Homo sapiens: one gene and its partner. The protein of the gene in region 1 purifies or fractionates together with the protein of each later gene. This does not show direct contact. Each region holds a gene or a part of one and is shown on either strand. Other genes may lie near its edges.

Region 1 (5,015 bases):
CACCATCACCTCCAAGACTGCAAGGTGCTGGCACAACGACGCACCCAGAACTACAGTGTGTCGTGTCCCCAGAAGGCAGGGTAGAAAATGTTCGTCCAGCTCCTCCCTCAGCCTGGCTGCTCTCCTTCCTGCAGCCGCAGCCACGGGAGTTGCTGGCTAGATTCCCTCCCCTCAGCTGAGTGTTCCTGTCAGGACAGTGACCATCCTGCCCCTGCTCAGCCTCCTGAAGACCCCCGGGGCCTCTGGCTAGACCCCCACTAAACCTCCCAGTGAGGCCCTGCACTTACTGACGCCCACTGCAGTGGGATCAATTCCCTCAACACCATGGACCAGGCATGAGGCAGCACAGCACCAGCTCCCTCTGGGAGCCACCAGCTGCCAGCCCTGCCCTGGGGACCTTCAACGCCCAACTCTGAAGGCAGGTGCTCAGACCCTGAGCCCCCGGTTCCTAAGTGGCTCTCGTTAGCCTGACTCCCATGGGGGGCTCCTTCTTCTGCTGTGCGTCACCCACCTCCTGCCCTGCCCCGCCTTCTGGATGGGGACACACGCTTACTCTCCCTCTTTATCTGCACACCAGGTACCCCGGGCAGGTCACAGTGTGTGCTTCTGCTTTCTCTGGGGACCGCGCTGGGTGTGACCCCCAAGGGCAGCCTGCACCCGTGCTCTCACCTTCCAGCATGGCCCAGTTCCCACGAAGAACACCAGAGACTTTCTTTAACACGGTGCTCTCAGGAACAGACTGCAGGCGACAAACAGGAAATCTTCATCAGAAAGAGGCAGGCCTGGAAACCCAGCACCAGGACGCAACACATGCTGGCCAGAGAGGCTTGCAGGGGAGGTCCCCTCCTGGTGCCTGGGGACCCCCATTCACCTTCTGTGGAGACCTGGGGAGGCAGCCCCCGCAGCTGGCCCATGATGCCAGGGCAAGCTCTTCACATGCAGTTCATCAACCTCAGGGGCCAGCAGGTGCGACAGGCACCCACTGGGGACATCATGTGGCCTGCCACTTCTCAGGTAAAAAGAACTGGATGGCTTAAAAGTGCTTCCAGGTCAGGCGCAGTGGCTCATACCTGTAATCCCAGCACTTTGGGAGGCCAAGGCGGGCGGATCACCTGAGGGTGGGAGTTCAAGACCAGCCTGACCAACATGGAGAAACCCCGTCTCTACTAAAAATACAAAATTAGCCGGGTGTGGTGGCGCATGCCTGTAATCCCAGCTACTCGGGAGGCTGAGGCAGGAGAATCACTTGAACCCGGGAGGCGGAGGTCGCGGTGAGCCGAGATAGCGCCATTGTACTCCAGCCTGGGCAACACGAGCAAAACTCCGTCTCAAAAAAAAAAAAAAAGTGCTTCCAAAGTGCTCAACTGAGCTTTGGCAAATGGGTACCTACTCCACTCAACTCCACAGCAACCCTGTGAGACGCAGGGCGGGCAGGGGCATTGCTCCGTTACCAGGAGCGATGCAGACAAGGTACAGGGTTCGCCCCGTCCCCCAGCAAGGAAGCAGCTCGGCCCGCCGCCCTCGCCCAGAGACCCCACTGTCTCCCCAGAGGAAAGCAGCTCAGCCTGCCGCCCTTGCCCCCTCCTCTACCCGGGGCTCCACATGCTCCTGAGGACTCAGCCAGTGCCCCAGGCCCGAGGCTGTGCTAATCCAGCCTCCAAGTGTTAGTCCCACACACCCTTGCCACACTGAGTGCCAACTTCATCGCTAAGTGTGGTGTGGGGGGCCACACACTCACCCAAAAAAAGAACTGTTGCAGACATCACCACATGGGACAAGCCAGCCACGCCGGCCTGGCACCCGGCTCCCTTCACCCACGGTGGAAGCCCCAGCCACTGCCATTCAGGACACAGACCCTGGGCCCCAGAAGTGGCTGAGTTGAAAGAGGCTTACCCATGGACCCAAAAAACATAGCTGCCGCCCCACACCCCCAGGCTTATGGAAAGGCAGGGCATAGGACATCTGGAAGGTGCCGAGTCTCACCTGCCACTGGTCGCCCACAGGCCTGTAGAGCACCAGGGGGGCTTCCTGGCAGTCCTGGAGCACCCACAGCCCCTGGGTCTCCTCGAAAGCCACGTCCCACACTTGGTGCTGGAACGCCAGCTGCTGCCTGTACACCAACTGCTGTCTGCGGGCGTCCAGCTGGAAGATGTAGACCACAGGAGTGCTTGCCACGAAGAAAGAGAGCATGATTACTAGGACTGCAGGCCCACGGGCTCCGCTCTGCAGCCAGCACCCCAGACGGTGCAGCCCTCGCCGGTGCCACCTCAGGAGAGCCTACGCTGAAAGCCCCAGCTGCGCCACTCCCAAATGCCGGCGCCGGGGAAACCATGGGGTGACGTACACTTTTTTAAGTCCTAAGCTCTGGAGTGGCTCGTGGTGCAGCAATAGCTAACCAGCACGGTACAGGCAGGCAGGGCAGGAGGACGCAGGCCCTGGGCTCAGGCGCAGCTCTCCTCTCACACCTGCGTACTTCCAGAACGAGCTAAGAGACCTCCCCAGGCTGTCATAAGGACAAGATGAAAAGTGCCGAAAGCACCAAATAGAATACCTTTCCTGACACACACAAGTCACTCGGGAAGAAGCAGCAGAACTGCACTCCACCCCTAAACCCACCTTGTCAGCACCGCCAACCCCAGGGGGTTCCCATCCGACCAGCCCCGAGCCGGGAGTGAGGTGATGCCACCACGACTGGCCCAGGGGAAAGTCTGTCATCTCAGAAGGCCAGGCAGAGGCTGCTGGTGCTCTTTACGCCAGGGGAGTTCAACGTCAGGTTGAAGAGCGCTGGCTGAGAGGAGCCCTCACCCTCATGCAGCAGCAGTCATCAAAAGTGACATTCTCAGAGGGAGGTGCTAGACCAATACCACCACCGTTCAGGACCTCTTCATTGAGGACGTGGGCCAGTGGCCAACCCGCTAACTCTTCCCCCTGCAGGTCTGCAGAACCGGAGGCCATAGAGGTGCCGCCGCAGCTTACCCGTCGCACAGGAGCGCCACGCAGTTCTCCTGGCACCAGAATGCAATCCTGGACGCGGCAAACTTCTAAAAGGAGAAGAAGCCCATTAACTTCACGCCACCTGCAGGGGCCCGACGCCGGGCGCTCTGATCCAACAAGAGCAAGACCGAAGGACGCTCACGCCCCCACATATCAAGGAAGAGGAAACAGCACTGGAACATTCTGGAATCAGTGGGGAAAGGAGGGTAGCTGATTCCCTGTTTCCCAAGCAGATGACAAAAGCCCCCCAGTGGTTCTGGCACTCCCTGCAGGGCCTGCGACAGCCTCCAAAGCCAACAAGATAGGTCAGACAGTGAGGAGAAGAGGGAGCGGAGGACACAGGGGAAAGGAAGAGATGAGAGCTACACATACAACTGCCCTGTGAGCTCCCACAGTTCCTGGCAGAGGAAATATTAAAAATGAAGAAGAGGCCGTGCACAGTGGCTCACGCCTTTAATCCCAGCTACTCAGGAGCCTGAGGCGGAGGTTGCTGTGAGTCGAGATAGCACCACTGCACTCCAGCCTGGGCAAGAGTGGGACTCCATCTCAAAAAAAAAAAAAAAATTTTTTTTAAATGAAGGAAACTTCCAGGAACCTGAGTCCACGTGAAGCATGAAGGAAAAGGCCTGGTCCTCTCTTACACAGCTGCCTGGCAGGGGGCAGAGGCCACACCACACAGTTCTCTAGGAAATGGAACAGACCGTTTGGCGGGAAACTTTGCCAAGGCCTGGGCTTTCAGGGTGTCATGAGATTGCTCCAAGCTGGCCGGAGAATGCTGGAGTGGGCCTGGCCCCACCCCTGCCCCACCTGGCTGGCAGACCCACAAAGGTGCATGCTCAAGCACCTCCATTCCTTCCACTTCAGAGCAGGATTAGAGGCCTTCCTGTACATTAACTGTTTGCATGCAACAGGGAGACAAATTATTTCCCACTGACATGACGAGCCACCTTCAGAATTTGAAATACGAGATTTCCCTCACACAGGAGGAAGTCTGGCATTGAGAGCAAACGTTTCCAACGGCGAAGTGACTTTTCCACTCAAGTCAGGCGACTGCCGGTGTCTACAAGCACTCAGTCGCCCAGGAGTGAACAGAAGCAGCTACCTGGGGGGCCTGGGGGTCCACCAGCTCCTGCAGACTGGCCAGGTGACAGCAGTGCAGCTGGCGGCCGCTCCTGTACTCCCAGAGCCTCAGGGTGCCGTCCTGCACAAACCAAACACACAGGTTAGCACATGGTTGTGGGGCTTCCGTCAGGTAGGGTGACAGAGAGGACAGCTGCGTGTGGTCGGGGTTCCACTCCGTGACAGCCATGCCACCCACCCTCAGGAATTAAAGGCTCTCTGCTCTGACTGTGTAAATCGCTCATGCAAATCATCAAGGACAACGGTGGGGAACGGAAGGTGACCGATTCCCTGTTTCTCGAGTGCCAATATGCCCAGGCAGATGACAAAGCCAATGAGGCAGATCCTAGCAAAATAAGCCAAGGCCGCTAGATGGCCAGGTTGTCATCCGCCAGGAGGCCAGACCACATCTGCTGTGCCCGGGCCGGGCATAGACACGGGCATGCACACAGGTCTGCGCAGACACTTCAGCAATCATGCATTCCCACGGGGAGACACGTGTGGGCTCATGAGCTCGTGGCCACTGCTCCACTTCACTAAGAATGACAGGAAGGACATGGCCATCAGCAACCGTCCCACGACAACTGGTACAACCCTTCAGGAAGCCGACACAGGAACCAAGAGGCTCCACGCTCTAAAACCATCATCAATGGAAAAAAGCGTTTCTCTTTTTTTTCTTGGTTTTATCTGTTGTTATTTTTTTGTTGTTTAATTGAAATGGGGTCTATTCCACACTGCCCACTGCACTGCAGTGGCTATTCACAGGCTTGCTCCTGGCTCACTGCAGCCTCTGACTCCCAGGCCCAGGCAATCCTCCCGCCTCAGCCTCCGAGTAGCTGGGACTACAGGCATGAGCCACCATACCTGGCTTAAAAAAAATTCATTACAGCACTAATTCAGTG
Region 2 (5,108 bases), on another chromosome or scaffold:
CCTCTATTTTAAAATAATGGCTTCTTAAAGTGATGAGGCACCATTTTTTACCTATCATACTAGCACTTCTTTAAAAATGACAGTACCTGGTGTTCAGGTGTGGCAAGACAGACAAATTCAAATACAAAGGTGCAAACTTTCTGGCAGACAAAGGGCAAGATGAGTCAAAAGCCCTAAAAGCCAACCAGAAATAGGAAGAAAATTATCAAACACTAAGACATGGATTCATGAACCAAGATTTTGATGGTAGCATCATAATAAATTACAGGATTACTGCAAATAACCCAAAGGTCATCCTTAGGGAAACAGTTAAATAAATTATGGTATAACCACATGATGGAGTATTTAATACTCACTTAAAATTATGCTTGTATATGCTTATAGTGTACTGATACAGTGAAAAAATCAGGCTATAAAATGATATATGCATAGAATATTGACACTGATTATCTCTAAGTAACAGAATTTATACGTGATTTTTTTTTTCTTCTTTTTACTTCCTCTGCATTTTCCAAGTTTTCTATCATGGGATTGTGTTTTTGTTACAATCAGGGAGAGAGAAAAGTTTTACAGGTGTTTTTCTCTGACGTTGAGATCATTAAGTTAATTAGGGATGTAAGTCACTGACACACTTGACAATGTTTTGTGGATGGAAGATGCAGGGACTGAAGAGAGAGGACACTGCAGTAGGGTCTCATTCTCTAGTGAGAAGGCAAAAAGATAAAGCAGTGCCTCTTCTCAGTTGCCCTGGGTCAAATCCACTCAGAAACCAGAAGACAGGACAGGAAGGTTCAACCAGATTCCGTCAGGTTTTAGATGAAAGAAGGTGCTGAACAACTGCATGAAGGTGGGTTAAGGTCCAAAGACTGAGAAACTACTATTACATCAAAGGGCTTGGGGAGGAACTTTTAGTTCCTAGTTTTCTGAGGTAGAAATGCTCCCAGAACATTCTCACTATAAAGACCTTAGGAAACCACAGGACAAGTGTAAAGAAAGAAGGCCTCTCCTATGAGCCCACTTCTACACCTACAGAGGCTGACAGACATAAAATATTTGTAGGAAATGCCCTTCCTCAGAGGTGCCATGGTCCTGAGGGACTGGCCAGAGGTGGGCATCACCCAGCTGTAATACTGCTCTGGACAAGCCTCACTCCCCTCCCCAGCTCCCTGTAATTCTTTCTCCTTCATCCTAGTTGGCATCTCCTATACCCATTTGGTGACGTAGTCTTCTTCTTATTCCCTGGCCACTCAGAAAGTTGAATGGCATGAACACACAGATACCCAGAGACCCAAAGGAGAGATCGGGTAACATGCCCAAACAGCGAAACCAGAGCACTCACACGCAATCTCATCCAAGGCAGTGACCACAAACCACATGACGTTCCTCTCAGCCATTTTCAACCGAAGGTCTGCAACCTTGTCCTTCCAGGAGATGCCTGCAAGAAACAAATGTGCTTTAACTCCAGCCCTGGTCCCAGAAAGCAGTAGGAACCCAGTGAAAGAACCTACCCTAAACATCTTTAATCAGCACCATTTCTTACAGGAGCACGCTACTTAAACAGGCAGGAGGCCTGGATTCAAGCCCTATACAAGAAGTGTCCAAGCCACTTGACTGTCGTGAGCCTTGATTGCCTCACCAGTAAAATTCATTCATTTACGCATCCCACAAATGCCTGTGTAACATCTAGATCTGCCAGGCATAGATACGTGCCAGGCACTCTGCTGGTCACTGTGGTTACAGATCTGAGCCAGACCCAGTCCCTGTCTTCATGGGGCTTACAATATAGAAGGGAAGACAGATAATTAAACCAGCAATTAACACACTACTGTAAATACTGATGCAACAGGGGACACACAGGGACCTATATCAACACACTACCCAGCAAAGGGAACTCACCCAGTCTCAGGGGTCAGGGGAACAGCACCCACCACTTGATGTTCCTGGGGGCTGCAAGACTTGCCTTTCAGTGCTAAGACCTAGGAATTCCCTGTAGTCTGACTCACTGTGATTACCACTTCCAAATCACACTTGCCCTTTCAGACACTGCCAAGGCCTCTCTGTTGCTCTGCAAGATGAAATCGTGGTGCTAGAGGAGCTCACCCCATTGCCACCACAACCACCCTACCAGGGCAGCATTCATAACTCAGGGAACAGCCACCTGTGAGCAGGGTGGGCATCTGTCTTATTCACTCAGCACCTCGCACAGCATCCTGCAGATAGTAGGCACCCAAATGTGTACTGAACAGCAACATTTGCTCTCCCCTCTCCTATAAGCAACAAGTCAGAGCTTCTGCTCTAGTGAAAAAAACTTCAAACCACGCTGATGGAAAATATTTAGCTGACCCTGGGCCACTCACTGGACCCATCCTCCCCATTCCGCAATACCCCTCTGGTGAGGATGTCACACAAGAAAGCAGGCTGGGGCTGCCCCCACACCCAGGGCTGCACTGAAGATCAGTTCGGGAATGCTGTTTAAAACTTGGCCCAGAATCTAGGCTGTCACGCTTTCTTCCCAGGACCCCTCTGGGCAATCTGCCTACATTCCACAGCCATCCCCCATCTACCTCTGTTTCTACAGCAAGACGCCCTCCCCTGCAGCCCCACCTCCAGGCCTCTCTCTCTGCCCCCTCACTGCTTCATAAATCCACACAATGGTTCAGAGAACATGCTGCTTACCCATCACTATCGCACAGGCCAAGGAAACACACCCACACCCCAAAGCCTCTAAAGCAGAAGGTACAAGATGGAGGACAAAGGCCTAGGAAGGTAAATCTACAAATGCTGACATAAGAAGGGAAATGGAACCTAGAAACCTCTATGCTCTATTTCCAATATCAAATACGTTCGAGTGGCAGTTAGCAGCTGAGTGGATAAAAAAAACTCAGTCTTTTCAGCAGCACCCAAAAAGCCACCCAAACGAGCTTTGCGAAAATAACCAAAGCCAAACTAAGTGGCAAGTAGGTGGCAACAGTGGAAACAAACAAAGCTCCTGCTTCTTCAAATATCCCACTGGGGCAGAGTAGGGCAAAATCCTCCTGTCAGCTCCAACTCGACTTGGATTCGGAGGACGAGGCTGGAGACAATAGCAAGAGGTGGGGGGACAATGGCAGGGGCCCTGCTGGGCAGAACCATTGATTCTGACCTGTGTAATCCAGGCCCAGTGTGAGGAGAGGCTTGCAAGGGCGCTCAGGACGGTCTGTCCAGATTTTGTCAACGAGGTTCTCCTTGACAGGAATGAGGTGATGGCCGGCACTTCTCAGAACTTTGGCCATTTTCTTCCAATAATCTGAGGAGACACATTGTGGCCCAGCCATGAGCCGAACGCCCATTGCAGCAGGGCAGGGAGCAGGGCCTTGAAAGTCCAGAACCTTCAGAAAGGTGGTCCTGCCATGGCCCAGAGCTGGGTGTGCAGGATGAGGAACTGTAAAAGCACATCTTCACCACCAGTGGAACTCTTCTCTTCACCCTGACCTCTACTATAAAATCAGTCATGCTGAGCCCCCCAGTGCTCCACACCCCACAAGCAAATGAGGAGAATGGAGGGGAATCTAGAAGCCACTTCCTTACCCAAGCAGAAAGGGACCAAGCTCACTTACCTGTAGGAATGATCAAGGGGTCCACACCAACCCTGGATCCTTCAGGAAGCACACTCACCAGCCAGTCTTCCTGAGTTGGTGTGTCCTTCAGACCTACAGGGGGAAGAAATGATAAGAAACAATTCCCAGTGGGCCCACGCTCATTATCCCACCAGAAAGATACAATTCTCTAACATCATGATAGCAGGGTCTTTATTAAGCAGCTTCTTTAAAGTGGATTGACAGGACTTAGAAAATCTGAACCTCCCTTAATCCTGGAAGGCTACAGAGAGGGAGAAGTGTAAGTTTTTGTGTATGAAAAACATAAGACAAGGGTGAGACAGAAGGGAAAAAAGTATGATTTTTCACTTGACCCCTTGTAAAAATATCTTGGGGATCACTGCCACGTACACACATGGCGTCACCACAAAGATTGTCTCCTCAGCGTTCAGTCACTTCCCCACTACTGGTCACTTGATGAGAATTTGGGCAGTGATTTGGTGAAGTCTGGGAACTGGGAGACTCCCACATATCACATACCAGGTAAGGTGATAACATGCTCCCAGTGCCCGCCCCTCATCTGCAAGGGCAGGGTGGCCAAGAGAAGGCCGCTGCCCCATAACCAGCCTCTGAATAGAGGGCTAAGCACAAGTCTTGGCAGCAAAGAGATCTTTCCGAAGATTTTAAGAGAGGCACACAGGCACCTGTCCGGTTGTCTTTATTTATTTATTTACTTCTGAAGACAGAGTCTCACTCTGTTATGCAGGCTAGAGTGCGGTGGCACCATCTCAGCTCACTGCAACCTCCACCACCTGGATTCAAGCAATTCTCCTGCCTCAGCCTCCCAAGTAGCTGGGATTACAGGCTCAAAATTACCATGCCCAGTTAATTCTGTATTTTTAGTAAAGACGGGGTTTCACCATGTTAGCCAGGTTGGTCTTGAACTCCTGGCCTCAAGTGATCCTCCCACCTCAGCCTCCCAAAGTGCTGGCCATCCTGTTGCCTTTAACATGAGCCTCTGGGTTCCCCAACTCCCAGGATGAGACAGCCCTTTCTGTTTCTAAGACGCTAGTCATAGGACACTATATCAGCCTCCAGAATAGAACTAAAATTACTTCTATAGTCCAGTTTTCCTTTAATCTAAGCCAACACCTTCCATATCTAGCCAGTTATCTTTGAAATGTATACTTTTTTTAACCAATGAGGTTTTGGCCAAACAATTAACATCTTGATAAAATATACATATATTTAGAGTAAAAGTTCACATATTCTAAAACAGTAGAAACTTATCTTTACTATTTTCTCTACTGACTACTGATACAACCACATAACCATAGAAGGGAAGTGCAAAGGTTTATAAAGAAAGAAGCTCATGAATTCCAATTCTAAAAAACTGCCTAGAAGCTGACATTGAGTTTCATTCTGCTATTTGATTCTTTCCTATTTTTTTTCAAACCACTAAACAAGCCACTTATTAATACAGTTTCTCCTAATGCCCTAGTACACTACATAATATAACTTTCACAGGATGAA

What was found.
Region 2: the proteins of WDR4 (region 1) and XPNPEP1 purify together in Homo sapiens (affinity purification with mass spectrometry; 2 studies listed by BioGRID and IntAct, with this or other methods). This does not show direct contact.

What each region holds. Positions count from the first base shown.
Region 1 is NC_000021.9:42,851,586-42,856,600, forward strand, and holds part of WDR4 (tRNA (guanine-N(7)-)-methyltransferase non-catalytic subunit WDR4), read right to left. Parts: intron 4,196-5,015; coding exon 4,097-4,195; intron 3,042-4,096; coding exon 2,977-3,041; intron 2,168-2,976; coding exon 1,984-2,167; intron 740-1,983; coding exon 670-739; intron 1-669. UniProt on the Homo sapiens protein: Non-catalytic component of the METTL1-WDR4 methyltransferase complex required for the formation of N(7)-methylguanine in a subset of RNA species, such as tRNAs, mRNAs and microRNAs (miRNAs).
Region 2 is NC_000010.11:109,884,907-109,890,014, forward strand, and holds part of XPNPEP1 (xaa-Pro aminopeptidase 1), read right to left. Parts: intron 3,690-5,108; coding exon 3,597-3,689; intron 3,287-3,596; coding exon 3,143-3,286; intron 1,436-3,142; coding exon 1,340-1,435; intron 1-1,339. UniProt on the Homo sapiens protein: Metalloaminopeptidase that catalyzes the removal of a penultimate prolyl residue from the N-termini of peptides, such as Arg-Pro-Pro. Contributes to the degradation of bradykinin.